Regions from separate parts of the Homo sapiens genome. Here regions 1, 2 and 4 are each linked to region 3. Evidence: fine-mapped expression QTL. A gene starts in region 3. Each other region holds a variant in brackets. All regions are shown on one strand. Distances are between the middles of the regions.

The links. PIP is the estimated chance that this variant, and not a neighbour inherited with it, causes the effect.
Region 1: its variant is the best candidate, but not a certain one, in a credible set for the expression of UNC5B in lung (TOPMed, PIP 0.72).
Region 2: its variant is the best candidate, but not a certain one, in a credible set for the expression of UNC5B in lung (TOPMed, PIP 0.53).
Region 4: its variant is the best candidate, but not a certain one, in a credible set for the expression of UNC5B in monocytes after LPS (Fairfax 2014, PIP 0.87).

Annotation. Positions count from the first base shown.
Region 1 is chr10:71,243,330-71,248,473 of GRCh38, forward strand. All of the region lies in intron 1 of UNC5B (unc-5 netrin receptor B), which reads left to right. LOC112268061 (a long non-coding RNA gene) reads left to right here. Exons shown (of 2, transcript XR_002957083.2): 1 at 1-3,044; 2 at 4,758-5,144. Among named protein-coding and RNA genes, the nearest start is that of UNC5B-AS1, 28 kb to the left of the region's middle. RefSeq lists enhancers at 2,839-3,758, 3,064-4,263. The variant G/A (reference allele first, on the strand shown) is at 2,031.
Region 2 is chr10:71,271,678-71,276,821 of GRCh38, forward strand. The region is part of intron 1 of UNC5B (unc-5 netrin receptor B); the gene reads left to right. Among named protein-coding and RNA genes, the nearest start is that of SLC29A3, 45 kb to the right of the region's middle. The variant GC/G (reference allele first, on the strand shown) is at 2,557.
Region 3 is chr10:71,210,521-71,215,664 of GRCh38, forward strand. It overlaps UNC5B (unc-5 netrin receptor B), which reads left to right and starts at 2,050. Exons shown (of 17, transcript NM_170744.5): 1 at 2,050-2,544. The coding sequence starts at 2,466. RefSeq lists enhancers at 1,812-2,106, 5,077-5,144 and a silencer at 1,951-2,210.
Region 4 is chr10:71,230,240-71,235,383 of GRCh38, forward strand. The region is part of intron 1 of UNC5B (unc-5 netrin receptor B); the gene reads left to right. It overlaps LOC112268061 (a long non-coding RNA gene), which reads left to right. Exons shown (of 2, transcript XR_002957083.2): 1 at 1-5,144. Among named protein-coding and RNA genes, the nearest start is that of UNC5B-AS1, 15 kb to the left of the region's middle. RefSeq lists enhancers at 2,257-2,767, 2,813-3,566, 5,075-5,144. The variant T/G (reference allele first, on the strand shown) is at 3,185.

The DNA of each region.
Region 1 (5,144 bases), 33 kb after region 3:
GGCTGTCACACCTTCCCTGCAGCAGCACTGTGCAGTGAAACTTCTTGCAGGGATGGGGACGTCTTCTGCCTGCACTGCCCAGTCTGGTAGCCACTAGCCACACGTGGCTATTGAGCACTGGAAATATGGCCAGGGTGATGAAGGAACTGAACTTTTAATTTTAATTAAAGTTTAAACAGCCACATATGGCTAGTGGCCACTGTGTTGGATGGCACAGCTCTGAAGGCTTCTGGGAAGATGCCATCCATCAAGTGCCCAACACCAAGGTTCTCAGCCAGGGTTAGTTCCCTTCCCTGTTCCCCGGGGGGCTTGGGAAGCCTTCGCCACCCCCTCCTCAGAGGCCACCCCACCTGGATGGCCAAGGTTGGAGAGACTAGACAGTCCAGGGTGGGCTGGAAGGAACATGGAGGAAAATCAGAACCACAGCTACAGGGATCACCTAAGGTCACTGGGTGAATACTACTTTTAAAATCTCTTCTGTGCCTCGTGATAATAACATTGGTTGAGTTCTAACCAAATACCAGGCACTGCGTGAAGGACCTTATGTATCAGGCTGCTTAACCCTTGGAGCTAACCATTGTTCTCCATAGTTTATAATTGAGTACACCGAGGCCCAGAGAGATGAAGCAACTTGCCCGAGGTCACACAGCTGGTGTGTGGTAGTGCCAGGATCTGCACCTGGGTGTGTCTGTCTGCAGAGACTGTGCCCTTTGTACAAGCCCAGGTCTCTCCATTTATTTAGCCATCACCTATTCTGCTGTATCTAGTACTGGGCCAGGCATCTTTAGGGACAGAGAATTGTGCAACACAAGGTTCCTGCCCTCTTAGTCTCCTTGGAGGAACTCCCTGCACAACACGCCCACAACAGAAATGATGCAGGGTGCCCCCAGGCATAATCAGCATGAGACTCTGAGCCCTGGCCTTCACAGGGTGGTGGCAGGTTCATCCCTACAGCCTGGGCCAATGCCTGCTGGGTAAGGGTGGCCCCCCACCCCAGGGCCACTCAGGCATTATGACGACACCCTAAACTTGGGTGTTAAGGTTTGGTTATAATCTCCTAAGATGACACCTAGCCCCTGGGACGTTGCCTGGCACTGCAGAAGGTTTACAGTAAATATCAGTTGGGTGAATGGCCTCTAGTGTTCCAGTGAGCCAGGCAGAAGAGTCATATCCTTCTTACAGAGGGCACAGATCTGGAGGAACCTGGAGACTTGCCCTAAGTTTGCCCCTACTCAGGCCCCTGCTTCTTTCTGAGGCTAGCCGGGGAGCAGGTGGAAGGAAAACACTCAGCTTGCATACGTAGAGAGGCAAGTCATAAATATCACAACCTCCAAGAGGAGAGGAGGGAGGAGGGAAGGCGGATCCTGAGAGCTAGGATGTCCGCTTCCGAGAACCCGCGATCTGCAGCCGCTGCCAGCAAGGTCCTGCAGGTCCTAGGGACACCCTGTGTGCATGCATGCATGCCTGTGTGCGCCGAACTGGTTGGCGGCGGGGGCGTGCTGGCGTGCTTGTGTGACTGTGGGCGACCATGGCACGCAGACCGCCTCCAGCTCCCGCTGGCCCTCCCCAACCCACTTCTCAGTTCTCCAGCAGCCAGATGTCTCCCAGATGTTCCTCACTTCCTGCCTGGCTCCGTGCAGTGCATGTGTGTGTTTATTTTGGACAGGCCACTAAATAATAACCATTTTAAGAAAAGCTTTTCAAAACCTCGTTCCCACGAGGAATCAGAGTTCAGGAAATAATCCCAATTCTATTCACTATTGTCCCCGGGCTCCCTTCTCTGACCTCCTCTCCCCCAACCCTGGGGACCACTTTTGAAAAGATTTCTTTTTATCCTACATGACGTGTGCTCTCTCCATAACACCATCTCTCTGGGAGCTAGGGCTTAGAGCTGGGAGCCCCTTAGAGCTTTGCTACCAGCATCACCTGGAAGCTTGTTAGGAATTCGAGGCCTCAGCACTGTCCCAGACCACAATCAGTCTGCGTTTTGACAAGATCCCAAGGTATTCGCACCTACATTCGCGTTTACC[G/A]TGAGCCTAGCTCTGTCTTATTGATGGGGTAATGGAGGCTGAGTCTGGCAGGGGGGACCCTTCTATCAGGTCTTCTTTAGCAGAATCCCAGTAGGGCCTGGTGGTACAGACTGAGAGGCCCTGAGCCCTCAGAGCTTGGGGTCTGAACTGTCCTTCTGGGTGGGCTGGCGGGGAGAGGCAGCCCAGCTAGTCTCTGATGTGGGGAGGCAAAGGGGTGGATTCATCCAGAGAATATGCCACCTCATCCCTGGTAGCCAGCATGGCCACAGACTAGGTCCCATGCCAGCCTCGCCGTGCCACATGGCCACTAGGTTTGGGCCAGTCCTAGATCTGCTCTGTGGGCTCCTGTGAGTCCCTGCTCCACCCACAGCTGCCCTCTGGAGATGGGTCTGGCCCTCCCTGTCTATTCTGTAGGCACTCTGGGTGCTCAGGTGGGGTGCCACAAGCTGGTGTCCTCCCGTTCCATTGTGACCCGGCTTGTCATCCTGCCTCCTGTGAAAATAGAGCAAATCGTATCAGCTCTGTTGGTCTCAGGGCAGTCCCAAGGACACGGGGCTGTGACTTACTGGTGATACACCGCCAGCACCCTCCTCATTTCTGGGCGTCATGGCTCCCTCCTCTCTGTATCTGAGCGAGGGTGTGCGGAAGGCCTGGCACACCTGGCTGGAGGTGGAGGTGGGGGCGGCCCCGAGAGAACTGAAGCTCAGGCTGTCCTCAGGCAGCTGGTGGCTTAGCTGGGAAACAAGACTCCCGCCTGTGGAAGCCTAAGGAGAAACCAGCCCCCAGTTCAGAAGCCCAGCAGTTGGTGAAGGCTGCCCTCGGTAAGGGAGACCTGGTAGGAGTTCATTCGTCAACAAGACTGGCGTGGCTTGGGGGGCTGCATACTGTACGCTGGGAGAGGTATGACGCTGAGGAGGCATGGAGGTCCCAGAAAGGCGGAGGACCCCAAGGGGAGAGGATCCGAGAGGTTCCTTCCAGAAGGATGGCTTTGTGGCTCTCCACACCCAGGGGCAGGTGAGATCACAGTGGGGTGGGGGGCCAGGATGGTAGGGGAGCCCACCTGAGGGAGGTGGGGCTGAATCAGGGAAGCACCCTGTGGGCTCTCTGAGCTCCCTCTCTGCACAGGGACCAAGCTGTGGGTCAGAGTCCTACATATTCAATATCTATTCACCAACAATCAGTGGGTACAGGATTGGTGAGTGACTGGGTTGAGGGAAGGAAGAAGGGAGGGAAGTGAGGGAGGGAGGGACAAACTGACAGTTGGATGGGTGGCTGGATAAGTAGATGGAAGGAAAGGAGGAAGGATGAACAATGAATATAATCACCCCAGCGCTCCACATCTGTCAAAACCCTTTCAGAGCCAGCCACATTCTTTTGATCCCACACCCATCCTTTGAAGGAGATAAAGCTGAGACTATATTCGTAGTGTCAATAAGACTAAGACCCAGGCCAGAGAGGGGAGCAGAGGGCGGCTGACCAGCCGGCAGGCTCCCTCTGGGGCGACCACTTCTTTAAACACTCCGGGTTCACGGTGCTCCCTGAAGCAGGGAGGGCTTGGCACTGAGTCATTCACACTCCCTTGCCCACTCCCTGTGTGACCAGAGCCCCACCCTGAAGCCGTCCAGGACCTGTCTGATCACGCCCCTGCTACCTGGAGAATGTCAGCGCCAGGAGCTTTCAGCCTCCAGCCTTTGCCCAGATTCCAGTGCAAACCAAATGAGGAAGTGCATGACCCAGGTTGTTCACTGGGGCCGTGTGCAGGCCCAGCAGCATTGTCCAGGAAGCTCACTACTGAGCAATAATAGACCACCAGCTTATTCACAGAGGTTCCTTGAGACAATAGGATAGTAAAGGCCTATCCCTGCCCTGAAGGTGCCTATGGAGTCAGAACAGAGAGGTCACTCAGAGGTGACAGCATCTTGGGCTGCAGAGTGAACATCCAGAACATCAGGGAAGGCTCCCTGGAGCAGGTGCCATTGGCACTGGGTGTACAGAGAGGGCCATGGCTGTAGGGAAGGCACTGTTCCATCTACCCAGCCTTGCAGCAGTCCCCTCCACCCCTGCCCCTACCTGGCTAACATGCGGAGAGGAGAGGTGATTCAGCAGGCCTGGCTTGTTTCTTTCTTGCCCACTGAGGCCTCGCTGTTGGACAGGCTCCCAGACGTTGCAGTCAGCTGGAGGCCTCACCTTCTGAGCTCCCAGACCTGACCCTCTGCACTTTAACCTGGCACCCTGGCCCCAGCTGAGTTGGACTGTTTCAGGAGTCTGAGTCTGGGCCTTCCTCAGCTGTACACCCCCAGTCCCCAGGCCCCAGCATGGATGTGAGCGAGCCACAGCACCCACACTGGGACCTTTGCATGGTTGGGAGTTCTGTGCCATAGAACAAAGAGAAACCAGGCAGTGAGTTCTATAGAAATCAGACCGGGGGCTAAGGGAAGACATGCTTCCTTTTTTGCTTTGCCCTGGGATGTAGGACCCAAGTGAAGTAAGGCTCCCTAGTGATTTGGGGGTCTTACTTGTGTCCTTGAGACCTGGAAAACCCTCTCAAGGCCTCAGGGAAAAGGAGAAAGGATGGGAATGCCGCATCTGCCTTTGGCAAGCTGCTGATTCACCTCCTCCTATGTGGCCTTTACTTTCCTACTCTGTATAATGGGTAGGAGTGGACTCAATTGCCCCCTTCTCTCTCCCCTTTGCCAAAGCCTCTGACTTCTAGCACTGCCTTTCCAGGCTTGTGGTATCTCAGGGAAGGAGATACTGGTTTCACCCTGGGAACCATCCAAGCACCCAGGTCCCTGGTACCAGCTCTCAGCTCTTTGATAGCAGTCTTGGGGCCTCCCTGGGTCCTGTCTCTGAGGAGCAGAAGAGGAGTTGAGCTCCCCCCACTTGCTTCCACCTCTCAGGTAGGCAGCCTTGCCTCTGGCCTTGGCAGCACTTTCCCAAGCAGGGACGCCCTGGGAGCCTATACGGCCAGGAGGGAGGCAATACACACAGCGCCCTGGAGAAAAGCCCCCCGCACCTCCAGAGCAGAATGAGCTAGCGGGAGGCAGGGAGAAGGGGGGCCCACTTTCCCCTTCTTCCCCTGAGTTGGCACTTTTCTCTTTGAGTGTTAAACTC
Region 2 (5,144 bases), 61 kb after region 3:
GGGGCCTCGACCCCAGCCTCCCATCCACTTCTTCACCTGCCTCACAGTCCTTCGAGGGAGACGTTTCACAGGAGCAGATGGACACCCCCTTCAGGATGCAGGCCCCTGCCCCAGCTGGCCACCTTGGCGAAGCCGCTTCCTGTGACAGCAGAGGAAGTGATGTCAGGGCACAGATGGGTGCAGAGGGTGTGGGAAGAGGGCTGCGTGAGGAGCCACCTTTGTTAGGAATGACTTGGCGTCCCCCGAGCCCGCCAGCCCCCATTTGTCATCGGTAACGGCCATTGTGACCGCCTCCGAGGGGGCCCCTGCCTGAACCCCACAGCCGCAAGGAGCCAGGGCCAGATGGAGGAAGAGCTTTGTGTCCAGGGAGGGGTCCTTCCATGTGAGGTTGTGTGTTTTTAAAACATAATAATAAATTGGCTCCTCTCCCCCAACTCTCCCCACTCCCCACTGAGCACATCAGCCACGCAGTGAATGGGAGAGATTTTCCATGCAGTGGGAGGTCAAGTCTGGGGAGAATTAGCCGGTGTCCAGGGGCTAGAGAAAGACTGTGATTGCTGATGATAAATGTGCCCAGCGTGGGGCGTTTCTCTGTCCTCACCTCCCGCCTGACTCCTCCCCTCCCTGTCCTGAGCCAGTCAGCCCTGGAGACACACAGCCCTGCATGGCTACAGATGCCCACCCCTGGTGGAAGCCTGGGGGTCCCAGGCCTGTGGACAAAAGCCAGCGGTGGGGGTTTCAAGGCCTTCCCTACCAGACCACAGCAGCCTCCCTCTGAGGTCTCCGCCCTGGGCAACAGGGCTGACCGGAAGTGGACCCGGCTGAGATGGATAGCAGGAATTTCCATCCCAGGCATGGGAATCACAGAGCCCAAGCCTTCACCCACAACCCTGCCGTGGCTGTGCTGTCTTTCTGGGCCCCCTGTCCCTCCTCAGTCCTGAATCAGCAACTGGGCTCTGGTCCAGCTTGGCTGTTAATTTGCTGTGTGGTGTTGCATTAGTCACTTCCCCTCTCTGATCCGGTAGAACGCGGGGCTCCAAGGGCTCCAGGCTCTCTGAACGTTGACTTTCTGTGTCTGGTCTACGTGGGCTCAGATGGTGCCAGGCCAAGGAAACAGTCTGTGGGGCTTCTGACCTCCCACACACAGTTCAGCTAGAGAACAGCTCCTGCCTGCTGCCACTCCCAGGCACATGCACTGCCTGTTTGTTTGTTTGTTTGTTTGTTTGTTTTGAGATGGAGTCTTGCTCCATTGCCCAGGCTGGAATGCAATAGTGAGATCTCACTCACTGCAACTTCCACCTCCCAGGTTTAAGCAATTCTTGTGCCTCAGCCCCCCGAGTAGCTGGGATTACAGGCATCCGCCACCACACCCAGCTAATTTTTGTATTTTTAGTAGAGACAGGCTTTCGCCATGTTATCCAGGCTTGTCTCGAACTCCTGACCTCAGGTGATCCGCCCGCCTTGGACTTCCAAAGTGCTGGGATTATAGGCGTGAGCCGCCGCGCCCGGCCCACAGTGCTTGTTAAGAAAGATATTTGCATCTGTTTTCTCAGTTGACCTTTCACAGCAATACCCCAAAGTTGACAGAGCAGGAACTGCTAGTCACTTCTTTATAGATGGGGAAACTGAGGCTCTGAGAGGTCAAACAACCTCCCAAGGTCTCACAGTGCTGGGTGAGGCTTGGAACCAGGACTGTTGGCTCTTGGGTCAGCCTGGGCCCAGGCTCAGAGTCATGGTAAGGGCCACAGCACTCCTCTGGCTTCCCCTAGGGATAGTGACAATCTCCCTCTCAGGAATGTTGGAGCCACCCCCTCCTCTGAGAAGACCCTCTGAGAGGTACAGTGTCTTTACATTTGTCCTGAAGTCATTCCTTCGCCTCCTGGGCCCTCACTCCTGCTCATCCAGGTGGGTCAGATTCTGACACCTCTTATACAAGCTTGTGTCTCCACAGCAGGCACTGCACAGGCCCAGCCCCTGGGAAGAAGCCTACAGACGGGCACAGGGCCTGCTGTCCGACAAGCTCCACTCCACTCCTAGACGGGCGCCCTGTTGCCCATGGGGGACACCAGGAAGAACATAGTGTGTTCCCTGCCCTCCAGGAGCAGCCACCAAAACTGCAAAGGAGGCTTTGAGCTGTCTGACTCAAAACAGACTTGCCAGAAGCAGGAAGGTGCCCTCTAGACCCTAGCCTGGTCACCTCACCCTCCTGCATTTTAAATGGGTGGGTGACATGAGGAACTTGTCCATAAGGAAGCCAGCATGGAGGTGAGAGGTGCAAAACTGTGTCTTCTAGAGAATATTTGGATAAGACAGACTGGGGGACCAGGCTGCAACCTCCAGACTGGGAAGTGCACTGTTTAGTTAGAAGTGTGCTGTTTAGTTAGTTTAGAAGTTAGAATTCTAGGCTGGGTGCGGTGGCTCATGCCTGTAATCCCAGCACTTTGGGAGGCCAAGGCAGTTGGATCATGAGATCAGGAGTTCAAGACCAGCCTGGCCAAGATAGTGAAACCCTGTCTCTACTAAAAATACAAAAATTAGCCAGTTGTGGTGGCGGGT[GC/G]CTGTAATCCCAGCTACTCAGGGGGCTGAGGCAGAGAGTTGCTTGAACCCGGGAGGCGGAGGTTGCAGTGAGCCGAGATTGCACCACTGCACTCCAGCTGGGCCACAGAGCGAGACTCTGTCTCAAAAAAAAAAAAAAATAAAATAAAATAGAAATTAGAAGTCTAGCAATGGCTGAATCTCAAATTGCAGCTGTGAGTAAGGAAGGCTTTTCTAACTATTAGGTCTGTCCGAAGAAGAACCTGGCTGAGAAAAGCAGTGATGAATTCCCCATCCCCACAGGTATGTGAGTCAAGGTTGGCTGAGGAGTTGATGGGAGACGTTGGATGAGATGGCCCTTTAAGTAACTTCTATAGAGACTTCATAAAGAGGTCTCATGTAGAGACCTCATAAAGAGACCTCATAAAGAGGCAGGTAAAGGCAAATTAGAGGTGAGAGTTTGGATGGCACCCCTCGGAGGTCCCATCCAGAGGTGCTGGTGGTCATTTTGATCTAAGGCCTGGGATGGGTGGGCTGGAGCATGGTTAGGCGAGCCCAACAGTGTTTCCTCCTCCTCCTTCCCTGGGTTCTACCTACGCTCTGCTTTAGGACCACCGTATAGCAATGGCAAGGAAAGTGACCCTAATTTAAGCAAATTTGCTTTCTGAAGAAAAAAATTTACTCAACAGGACATTTTCACACATGAACAGATTCCCCATAAGGGATCTTTAAACCTCAAAGTGTTAGAAGCAGAGGAGGGCTTGAGAGACTGACTTGGCCAACCTCCTCATTTTACAGACAGAAACTCCAGGGCCTGGGAGAGAATGGCCACACAGCAATGCCAGTCCCCAGCTGGGATGCAAACCCAGGGCCTCTGCCTCCAGCGATCTTTCGTGTCCTTCATTTGACTGTCTTGTCATTACATCTGTGCAGGGATGTGTCTTCTTTCATAGCTTCTTGGCGGGATATCTGGACCATTCTTGGATGCAGCTTTAAAGGCAGGCTGCACTTTTGCAATTTAGGCCCAAACGAGTTCTACTCTTGGGAAAAAACACTTCATGTGGGAATTTTCCTGCCAGCAGGAAACCCAGATCCGGCCTGGCTGAGGCAAGAACTTCTAGGGGAGCCTGTCTTAGATGTGGTTCCTCTGTAGAGACGGAGCAGCAGGAAGTCCTGCAGAGAGGCCAGGGAGGCAGGGCTGAGAGACATGGCTCAAGCCTTGCTTCCTGCCATCGACCAGGTGACCCTTCATGTCCCTTGTTGCCCCTCGTTTTCATTTGTAAAATGGGAAGAATTGCAAGGAGTAGCACATAGTAGACCTAAATGCCCATTTCCAGTTCAGCAGAGCTCGGAAGACAGATTCTAGTATCAGATCACCTGAATTTGCCCCCTAGCGGTGCCACTTACTAGCTTTATAGCTCTATGCCAGTCACTTAAACGCTTTTGGTCTCAGTTTCCTCATCTGCACTGTGGGGATAATAATCATATCCAACTCATAGGCTTGTGGTTCCCAAACTACCTGCCAAGTTATCCCAGGGTTCATCAGCACACTCACAGGGAAGCTGTGGGATATTTTTAATGTGGGAGACACGGTAATACTAGATAGCTGTCAGACACTGCACCAACAAGTAGCTCCAGGTAGCTCAGTTTCAGCATCATATCACTCTGTTTTCCTTTATTTGGCACCATATCTTTGCAAAGCTGGGATTGTGGCACTTGAGTAACCCATGACAAACAGTAAGAATAGTGGTGTCCGCTTGGATTCCAAAGTTTGAGAAGTTGTGCAGTGCCCGACAGGTGCACACATCCCTGTTCGTAAGTCTTTGTGGCTATTAGGAATGGGATAAAAATATATTTTTTCTTTCAATTTATCCTAAGATTTTAGGATATAAATATTTACAAAGCTGTTTGGATCTAATTACCTAATACATTCCTGTTAGGGACTTCTTTTTGGCCTTGGGATAGCTTAAAAAAAATTACTGAGGCACTAAAAATCAAAACGTTTGTGCATCTCTGTCTAGGGTTATTATGGAGCTCATTGAGTTCATATGAACCACTCTCTGAGCGGCGCCTGGCAGGGTAAGCATCCAGGAACCCCGAGACCCCATTATTCTCCCACCCAGCTGGTATCCGTGCAGCCTGGCCATAGGTCGCTCTCATCTAGCCCACCTTTCAAGCCTTCCTCAGTCACTGGGGCCCAAGCCAGGGCCAAGGAGAAGTGAGGGCTCTCGTTGTTTTGGAAACAGAGTCTCACTTTGTCGCCCAGGCTGGAGTGCAGTGGTGCGATCTCCACTCACTGCAACCTCCGCCTCTCGGGTTCAAGCAGTTCTCCCACCTCAGCCTCCCGAGTAGCTGGGATTAGAGGTGCACACCACCATGCCCGGCTAATTTTTGTATTTTTAGTAGAGATGGGGTTCCACCGCGATGGCCTGGCTGGTCTCGAGCTCCTGAGCTCAGGCAGTCCACCCACCTCGGCCTCCCAAAATGCTGGGATTACAGGCGTGAGCCACTGCGCCCGGCCTACTCCCTTACTGAAGTTGCATTCACTGTGCACCTGCTGTGTGCTGGCCAGCAGAGTCCACTCATGGTCCCTCCAGGCAGGAACCTCA
Region 3 (5,144 bases):
CTTTTTAGAAAAATCTCCAATACCCCACTGGCCTGAAGGAGAGAGAGAAAGAGGTTGGGGAGAGAGAGAGAACATGCTGTGGTCTCTGCATGCTGCCCGTCTCTGCTGAGGTCCCTGCTGAGCTCTCCAGCACAGGCACAACCTTGACCATGTGCCTGCATCCAGGGGATGACCGTCAGATGTGGGTCTTGGCACAGGCGTGCCTGTATGTGTTTCCTGGCAGTAGTTAAGTATCCAAATATCTATTTGTCTTGGGAGTCATCTGCCTATTTGTGTTTTTAGTTGTGTGCGCCTGTGTGTTTGCTTTTTTTAGGCATACATCTTTGGTATGTGGGTGTCTCTGGAGTCGGGTGCCTATTTGTAGGTGTGATGTTTATGGGAGGTGAAACATTGCACCTGTTGTCTTTGTTGTATGTTTTCGTGTGTGTACCTTTGCAGGTGTGTATGGGTGGGTAGTTGTGTGTGTGCATGTGTATTTGCAAGGTGGAGTTGGTTTGGGTGTGCTGAGCTGTTGACTGTCTCATCCACTGCCCTTGCTAGGGCTGTCAGAGGCCAAGCTAAGCAACCTACCTTTGCCCACAGCAGCCTTTCTCAATTGATGGAAGTTCTTCCCCCAGGGAGTCCCAGTCCACCTGTTGCCACCCTCCTGATGCTGGGTGCCCAGTCAGAGAGGGTTAGGGAGATGTGCTGATGGCATGCACGACCTCCCCTAGATACTCCAAGACCCCGGCTTGTGAGGGGAGTGTGTGTGGAGAGGGTACTAGTCCTGCCTTCACCTCACCTCTGGGGAAACAGCTAGGACAGTCCCCTTCGCACAGCCCAATCCAGCCCCAGGGAAGGTGTTCAAGTGAGGCTCCCCCGTTTAGAGGGTTTCTTTCCAATCCCATCTCCCCCATCCCCTTTGCTCAGTCACTCAGTCACTCCAAGCAGTGTGATCTCCGGCAGGTGGCTTTACACCTCTGTGCCTCAGGTCCTTCATCTGTAAAATGGGATGTAAATGGTGCTTACTTCAGAGGGTTGTGAGAATTAACTGACATGATGCATACAGAGTGCTTAGCCCTGTGCCTGGCACAGGGAAGGTCTTTGCCTATGTTAGCTGATCCGCTCGTTCTGATCTCTCTGGGTTTCAATCCCAAGACACTGCCCATCCTTCAAACCTCACCTGTCCCCACGTGCTCCTTGGACCACCTTTGGGTGGTCAGGACTTTCCCCCTGGAATCAGACTGGCTGGGAGGGGAGAATCTTGGAAAGAGATTATTGACACTTGCACTGCAATTTCCACACAAGTTTTAAAATTTAATTCTATACCCCCTTATGAAATAGTTATCCTTTTCCTCCATTTTACAGATGATGATGAAGGGAGCAATAGAATTGTTAAGTAACTTGTTCAAGGTCACACAGTAAATAAGGGGCAGAGTCCAAGTTTACACTGAGCCAAAAATGGCTGTCCCACTGTCAGGTAGGAGGCTAGTTTACAACAACGCAGGATCAGAGTGCTGGAGGGGTTTCCAGGGGTCTGGTTAACAGTTCTGCCGGAGATCATACAGACAAGCAGAGCCAGCCAGGATGATCCTAATCTATACCCAGCTTCATATCGCTGTAAGCCCCCGCGTAACCAGGACTTGGGTGTTCTCATTTTGGGAGCCTTTTTTTTGGAAAGACCCCCACATGTGGAAGGCAGAGCGCATACTACAGACAGGGGAGCCAAAAGTGAGAGTCCTATGTTTAATCAGAGGAGAAAGCTGACATGGCCAAGCCAAATGAAGGCGCAAAGCCAGATTTCCTTAATTTGGGGGAGCGAAAATTGGGCCGCCTCCACGTCCAGCCATTCTCCAGCGGCCGGGTTTTTCAAAACGCTGCGCCCAGCGTCTCGCGAGGACCCTCCCCCCGGGTCCCCCAGCTCTGCCGCGGCCGCGCCCAGATGGCCGTCGGATCCCCCCTCAAGGTCCCCCTGTCGGCTCCGCCCTCGGTCGCCCAGGCCCCGCCCCGGCCGCGCGCGGTCCCCTCGGTTGGCGAACTCACTCCGGCGAGCGAGCGGCGGCGCTCGGCATTGTGGCAGGCGGCTGGGGCCGGCTAGGGCGCCGGAGCCGCACGCAGCCGCGGGGCTCCGAGAGGCGCGCACTGGGGCTGGGACTGCGCGGCGCCGCCGCTGCGAGCGCCACTGAGCGGTCGCGCAACTTCGGAGGCACAGCGCCGGAGCCAGGCGAGCGCTCAGAGACCCGGAGCCAGAGGGGCGCGCCGGAGCCTCGTTCGAGAGCCGGCGCCAGGCACCCACCGCGCTCCGAGTGCCAGGCGGCCCTCCGCGCAGCGTGGCTTCCGCTGCCCCCACGGAAGGCACGGGCTGGCGCTGCCGGGCGCCGGGGAGGACGGCGAGGAGGAGGCGGCGGCGGCGGAGACGGCGGCGGCGAGACTGGGGCCAGGGAGACAGCCCTGGGGGAGAGGCGCCCGAACCAGGCCGCGGGAGCATGGGGGCCCGGAGCGGAGCTCGGGGCGCGCTGCTGCTGGCACTGCTGCTCTGCTGGGACCCGAGGCTGAGCCAAGCAGGTAGGAAGCGATCGGGTCTGGGGGCGCGGGGCTAGGGGACCCTTGCGCCTCACTCTGTCCTGAAGTTGAGGTGGTCTTTCGTCGCATCGATGCGCGCAGGAAAAGCGGCAAGGGCGCCCAAGTTAGAATGTAGATTTTACTGCCTCCCAAAGTGGGCAATGGCGCATCCACATCGCGGGAGCGGGGAGCAGGGAAGGGGCTTCACAGTAAGCTGAAAGGTCCCTGCTCGCTCCTGAAAGGGATCCCTTCTTCTCCCTGGAAGGGGTGTAGGAGTCAGGGTCTGAGTCTCCGGGAGGATCCGCCTCCTGGGGACGCCCGGCTCTCCGCGCGCCTGGCATCCGCCCCGAAAAAGAACATTGGCTACATAAGCAAGGTGTGCGCTCGCTGCCGTACGCCGGTAACTTACTAGTCTGGTCCCGGCTCGCCTAGGCTCTTACGCGCTATAGGGACAGCAATCTGCAGACTAGAGGGAGAGAGCGAAAAGACCTGCTGAACACAGGAAGCGCTTCGGTAGCCTCGGCAGGCCGGCTTGCAGGGCTCCTGAAGCGGGGAGGGCTAAGTCTTGCACACATAGCTTTCCCCGAGATCGCTGGGCCCGCAGGTCTGGAAGAATTATTATTATTATTATTATTATTATTATTATTAATTTTCTGAGTGTTGGAGAGTGTGTGTGTGTGTGTGTGTGTGTGTGTGTGTGTTGGATGCGGGTAGGGGTTCTTAGCGATCCTGCGGAGTTTCCTTTTAAATTGGTCACTGACATTCTCGCTGTCCGGGGAACAGACTAGGTGCGCTCTCCTTGGTACAGCGCCCGCTCTGGACCCACCAAGATGACTTCAGCGAACTGGTGGGCTCCGAAATAAAGTCCCTAACCCTCCTCTCTCGCCGTGGATGAATACGTTTCTCGCTCGTCCTGTAGCTGGACCCGGCGTCGCTGGCTGGGCTGCGTCTTCTCGGGGAGGCTGTGGACTGAATGGAGCCAGCCTCTCTCTGGTACCCGAACCCAAGCAAGTGGGCTGGCCACGGCTGCCGGGCGGCTCGGCTCCGGAGCCAGGTGGGGACGGGGCCTCCTGCACGGAGTCCTCTCTGAGTTGAGGCTGAGAATGGAGCAGGAAAACTGGAGCAGAAAGTGGACGAGATGACGCAGCCCTCCCCACCTCCTACCTCCTGCTGCGAAGTTGACATCCGCCCTTCCCCCCTCCATAGCCAAAGATTCCTCATTCTGGAATTAGTGATTCCCACGGCCAGGAGTGAGGGCTTGGCTTTAGCACATTCCCCACTTTTTTTTTTTTTTCTGGTGCAAGTCCTGTGCAGTAGAGTTACAACACTCAACCATTTGATCCAAGTTAATTATGATTTGGGCAGACTCTGGTATTTAAAGCAGTGTTTTGAAGTTGGAAGGTAATGATGGGGATGGGGAAGGCAGGCTGCTGAATGTCCAACCTTGTTTTAAAGGGTGCAGTTAGACGTGGGAGGTGCTTGGTTGGGGTGCTGGTTTCTGGTTGGAGGGGGTTTGAGGAGATGATTGAAGGGTAGGGTGAAGTCTCTGTAAATGGCACATGGGCAGGGTTGTGTCTTGGGAAGCTGCTTTTGTACCAGCAGGACAGTGGGATCAGGAATAAATACTTAGGTTACCAGGAATGAGGGGCTGCTGTAGGAGAAAGACAAGACTGGTTGGCCTATAGTTCTCTGGGTGGGTGGGCTTGGCCAAGAAGGCTGGGGGTGGCCTGCATTTCCTGCTTAACAAAGCATCCAGCCCCCACCTTCCCCAGAAGAAACCCCAGGCCCAGGGCTTTGATGGATTTGGGCACGAATGGTGCCCAGTCAGAAATGGCCTCTAATACCCGGCTTTGATTTCTCACCAGCGAGCAGAAGCGGTGTTGGAATTGTGCTCATTACTTAGTGCGGCAGTAGCTGCCTGCCCACCAGCCTGGAGAGGGGCCAACTGGTGGGGTCGGCCTGCAGCCTTCTCATTGCCCAGAATGTGTGGCCCTTAGAAACCTGCCTTCAGGAGGGAGAACATGTCCCTTCCTCCCACACAATCTTGTTTTTCTCTAATGCCACAGGCACAGAGCATCATTCTTTCAGAATGTTCTTTGGGTTTTTCCATTGGATCCTTCACAAGCTCCATTTCACTGATGGGGAAAATCAAGGCCAGAGTGTTGGCTTTCTCCAAATCTTGCCTTCACTTGGCCACAGATTGAAGACATGTGAAGGGCTCCTGTCCAATAGCCAGACTGATTCAAGCCCAGCAGACCCTCCCTCCTATTCTTATCCACCCACCCCTCTGCCATGAGACTCATAACAGACTGAGGCAGGCGAGGCTCTCTCTGCAAAGAGGGATCTTTACTGGGGGTGTCCAAGCTCCCCTCAAGTGGCAGGCACCTCTCTCTCCTTTTCCCCACCCCACCCCATCCCTGGTGAATATGGGAATGAGCTCCCTTTACAGCACTGAGAATATTTTTAAGCTGTAAAGTCTGATGCTGGAGAAATCAAAACTGGAACCATAAAACCCCAGACCCTTAGAAGGTAATGTCAGCAAGTGACTAGCCAGAAAAGGCCACTTCAAAAGCTCTGGTTGGCCCTGGAAATCTCCTCCCACC
Region 4 (5,144 bases), 20 kb after region 3:
CTGATTGGTCAGAGTGAGGAGGGGTGCAGGCCTGTTTGGGAGCCAGGAACTTACCTCCACTCCATGGCTCAGCGAGGGAAGCTGCTGACCCCTGAACACACAGAGAAGCCAAGGCCAAGCAGGTTGAAGACAGGCAGTCCCTAGCCTCTAGCCCTCCTGGCTATACCACAAACGTGGACATCAGACTGAGCAGAGCAGGCCAGTGGCCAAGGTCAAAATTGCTTTCAATGTCCTGTCCACCAAGTGACCTGTGGACCTAGCCTGCCTCTCTGGGGAGGGACATTCCAAAGACAACCAGCCACCTTCTCTCTGCCCTCCCCACCTCATCAGGCCTCCGGCCCTGGGTATGTGGGCCTCCCCCCACATCCCTGGAGCCTGGCACAGCCTCCCTTTGGATACTCACCATGGGTGGACAGCTGGGACCAGCCTTCCCCATAAGGGAAATTCTAGATCCCACCAAATTCCAAATTCCATGGCCTTATCTGGCACCATTCTGTCTGGCCTTTCATGGGTTTCCTTGTGTGGGAGGAAGGACCTCCCGCCCACAGAAAGATTATGGGGCAGGGAAGCAGGGAAGTGGGGGTTCCCCACCTTCCCACCACTCAAGCTCCCTGGATGTGTCACAGACTTGTACCATGGCTGGAACACACAGGTTGTTTATATGGAGAGCAGCCAGGAACAGGGATTTGGGGTGTGGCTGGGGGTAAAGACAATGGGCTTGACAGCAGCAAGCCACCTCCATGGTGAAGTCATTGTCCCATTTAACCCTGTCAGAGCAGAGATGCTACAGCAAGGCAAATCACTTCCTCTCTCTGAGCCTCAGTTTCCCTGTCTGTTAAATGAGGGGGTTGGACTAGTGAACCATAGGATTCCTTATATGAAAGCTATATAAGCTGTGCATCGTAAAGTCCCCTTAGCCCAGCAGCCTATAGAATTTCCTGAGGGGCAGAAGGTGCCATTGTGACACCCACTGGCCTCTTCCAAGCATTTCCTGCTGGGCACCCTAAAAATACAGTAGGGGTGAGGTGGGGGTTGGCGAGAGTATGGGCTCGGCCATTGCTAGAGTCGTCATTTCACACATCAGCAAACGTGCCTCTGGAGGGAGTGCTCTCGCACTGAGCTTGGCGTGGCTGGCTCCTTGTCATCCAGGTCTCGGCTCCAATGGCCCCTCCCCAGAGAGTCCTTTCCTGGCCCCCTGCCTCTTTTACTCTTCTTCCAGCACTTCTTGCCATCTGGAATGGTTGTTTGAATACAGACTTATGTGTTGACTCCCCAGCCTGGGAGCGCAGGGCTGTGTACGCTCAGCAATGTACCCTAAATGCTCAGAACGGTGCCCAGCACACGGTGGGCCCTTGTGAACAGGTGCTTAGCAAACGAAAAACCACAATCGTACGTAAAAATCTTAAGAGTTTTTTTTTTTTAATGCACATGCCTGGCCTTTACCCTAAAGGTTCTGGTTTAGGGACTGTGGGCCAGGTTTGGGCATATGAATTTTGACAAAACACCCCAGGTGATTCTGTGGCACACTTATGTTAAAAAGAGACTAGCTTGGTCATTCTCAACCTTAGCTGGACAATGGGATCACCTGGCACCTAGGTCCCACCCAGAGATCCTGACTTAATTGGTCTTGGGTTCTGGCCTGGCCGTCAGGATCTTTAAAAGTCCCCCAGGTGGTCCTCTTGTGTAGCTGAGGTAGAGGACCCTGGAACCTGAGGATCTCCAAGGCCTCTCTGATCCAAAATTCTGCATTCTTGGAAAGCCCTGCAAGGTTAAGCCACTTGTTCCACACAGCAAACTGAATTCTCAAATGGGGAAACCTCCTTGTTGAACCCTCCTGCAAAGATGAAGAAAGGGATACCCTTTTTGACCCTCATAGATGAGTTGAAAGCATTGCCAGAAGCCTTGTGGCCCATCTCCGATGACTGCCCAGGAACTCCCAGGAATGGCCTGTGGCTCTGTGCACAGCCCCCCAGCACCTCCTTTTCCTGGCAAGCCAGCTGAGCTGTGTCAAAACCTATCTCATCTCCTCCTCTGATAGCACACAGTTTTAAATAAGATCTTCATTTACCAGAAGTTCACACCACCGCGTATGTGTTATATGAGAAGTAGCAATCTTGTGTTCATGAGGGAAATGCAGTCAGGGAGGGTGGAGGAGAGCCGATTGCAGAGGGAGTGCACAAGGAGGGAGGAACTCGTGGAACCTGAGCTGGTGGCCCAGCCCCGGCCCCAGCCCCAGCCCTGGCAGTGCCATGCTCCTCTTGGCTCAGCACGGGGCTGGAGGGGGAGGGGCTCCCACTTTGCAAGCTGACCTCAGCTGCTGGAAGGCTTGGAGCAAATGGGCATGTGATGTCACCGTGAGCTCCGCCAGTTGGCAGCCCTGGCCTTGCTTTGGGTCATTTACATGTCTTCAGTTGGTTAAGAAGGAGCTCTTACTGCCGATTTATTAGTTGCCGCCTGCCTAGCCTTGGTAGCTGTGATAAGGAAGGGGTTTAGGGGCCATGGATGGATGCCAGTCCCCCATGGCCATGCTGCCTCACTTCCCAGCACAGCCTGCCATGCAGCATGTCAGTGAATAAACCAATTCCAGTAGGATGGGGCTTGACAGTTTCCAGGGTGTTCTCATGCAGTCCTCCCAACCACTCTGTGAGATGGGCATGATTACCTTGCTCGTGGAGAGGAAGAAACCAAAGCTCAGGGAGCTTGAGTGCCTTGTACACAAAGCTGCGACCTTACTCCAGGATTTCTGCCAGCTGTGTCTGCACCTGATGGGGGACTTGTGGGCAGGTCGCTGTCCCTCTGAATGTGGTCTGCAGTATTTCTACTTCCACAGCACTTGTCCATTCTGATGGCCTAAATGCCAAGAGAACAGGGATCAAGGACCAGTGTGCCCTGTGACCTTGAGCAAGGTTGTTTCTGCCTCAGACCTCAATTTTCCCAAAGGTAAAGCAAGAGTTGGACTGGGTGGTCTTCCAGGAAGGTAGGACCCCTCGGCTTTTCGTTGCAGGTTTTCAAGTGTGTCCTAGCACCGAGGAGATGAGGATCCTGAGGTGGCCCCATCCCGGGGTCCTGAGGTGGCCCCATCACGGGGTCCACAGTACAAGGTCAATGCACTTGTAATAAATATTGAGCCAACCAATGCTGAGCCGCATCCCTAGCCTCTGAATAAATAAAATGTTGCCCAGAA[T/G]AACAGCCCGGAAGATGCTGGCGGCTTCAGCCAGCTCTCACCTTTGCCTCTCCCACTGGCCAAGCCTGTCACCCGTCCCTATACTCCCTTGTCTCCCCCTTCCCTCTGCCTCCCCACTCCACGGTCCATCACTCTAGCTCCAGAGGTGGCCACCGTCCCAGCCTGGCTTTAGTTTCTAGCTCTGCAGCCTGCATCTCCCTCTCCCAGCCCCTCAGCTGCCACAGCAGTTAATGAGGACCAACCCCTACAGATGGCAGCTGGGAGACAGGCCAGCCAGGTTCTGGTGGGGCTGGGGTGGGGCACAGGGAACTGGAGGTGGGGCACAGGGGAGTGTGCCTTTAATCCCCAGCACCAGACAGAAGCCTTTCCTTCTTTGTCAGGACCCTTGCTGGCATTTCCTCCTGCAGCCCATCCCTGGGAGATGAACTGGTCCAACTCCTGCAGGAGGCCAGCCCACTCTAACTGCTCTTGGCTGAGGCCGCCAGGAGATTAGAAACAGGGTCCACAAAGGAACCTGGTCCCAGGGTGCTCCAGGCCACACAGGCACACTTGATTTGATGCTTCTCTGCCTGATGAGTGTGCAAGTACAGTTATATGTGTTATATGGCTCCCTTCTTTTTACGGTTCAAGTTTCTCAGGGGCAGAGCCGGTTAGGTCAAGTGTGAAGTTACAAAATGTTAGCACTGAAGAGATATCTTCCTCATTTTATAGATGAGGAAATTAACCTCGGGGGTGGGGGGCGGAGATAAGGACACTTGCCCAGGGTCACACAGCCAGGAAGCAGCAAAAGAGCCTGGATTTGGAGCCTGATTAGGGCCTGTGCCCTTGGCCCGCACTTGACACCGCCCCCTCCAGGGGCTTTTGCTGGGGCCCTCACGGAGATGAGGCTTCATTCTTGAGATTCAGGCCTGGCCCAGAGAAGTCCAAGCCAGGGAATCGAAGCTTCTTGGTCCCAAGGTTTATGGACTGCCCTGGGGAAACAGTACCCCATCGGAAAACCTGCTCTCTGCTCTATGAAAAGGACCTTCACCATGTTGTGGGGTTTCACTGAAAAGTATTCTGGGGACCAGCATAAGAAGCAAAGCCCCTTGTATGACCTTCCTTTGGTCTGTCAAGCTGTGTGAGAACCAGCAGGGAGCCCCTGGGGTGGGAAGCTCAAAGCCCCAGGCAGAACACACCTTCCCTTTGCAAGGCACTTTCTAGATGGAATCCCTGGGGAGAAGCCTAATAGCTCAGTGCAAGAGGCGTGTGGGGTTTCATCCCCATTCTACAGGTGAGAGCACCTAGATGCAGCTAGAATACTTGGCCAGAGTCTTGTGGCTAAGACAGTTCCCCAGCCAGTTCCAGGCTGCTGGGTCTGGGGGCCCTGCTGCCTTGTTAGGAACTTGGGAGACTTGGAAACCTGGGCCTCTCTTCCTCTGCTCTATTTGCAGAGGTCCCAGGGTCATTCTGAACACATCAGGGAGACTCATCCTAAAAGCTGGGTTGAGGGGACAGGATTTGGCATCCAGATCCCCTCCCCAGCAGGCCAGATAGATTCCCACTGGTCTCCTGGCCCAGAAGGAGAGGCCAGCCCTTCCCACCCCCAGCGCCCAGGGGGGCCCCTCCTCCCCCGGCCTGGCTGCAATGCCGGGCCCCTATTGCAGGACTCGCTGCCGCTGCCTCTGACTCTGCCTCTGCCTCTGCCTCTGCCTCTGACAGACATCCCGCCCCAGAAGATAAGGATCCTGTCTGGCGCCGGAGTGCTTTTTTTCCTCCTTCTTTCCAAATCTGTTCCCTGATTATCTGCAGACAGCCCCTCGCTAGGGGAGCCACCAGGGAAGGGGCCCAGACCACAGAGAAAGACAGGAGGGGTGGGACTAACAGGCCTGCAGCCACCAGCCCTTCTGAACCCCTCTGGGGGCTTGATGGTCATTTGCTGAGCCCCCACTGTAGCCAGAGCCCTGAACTCAGCAGAGAG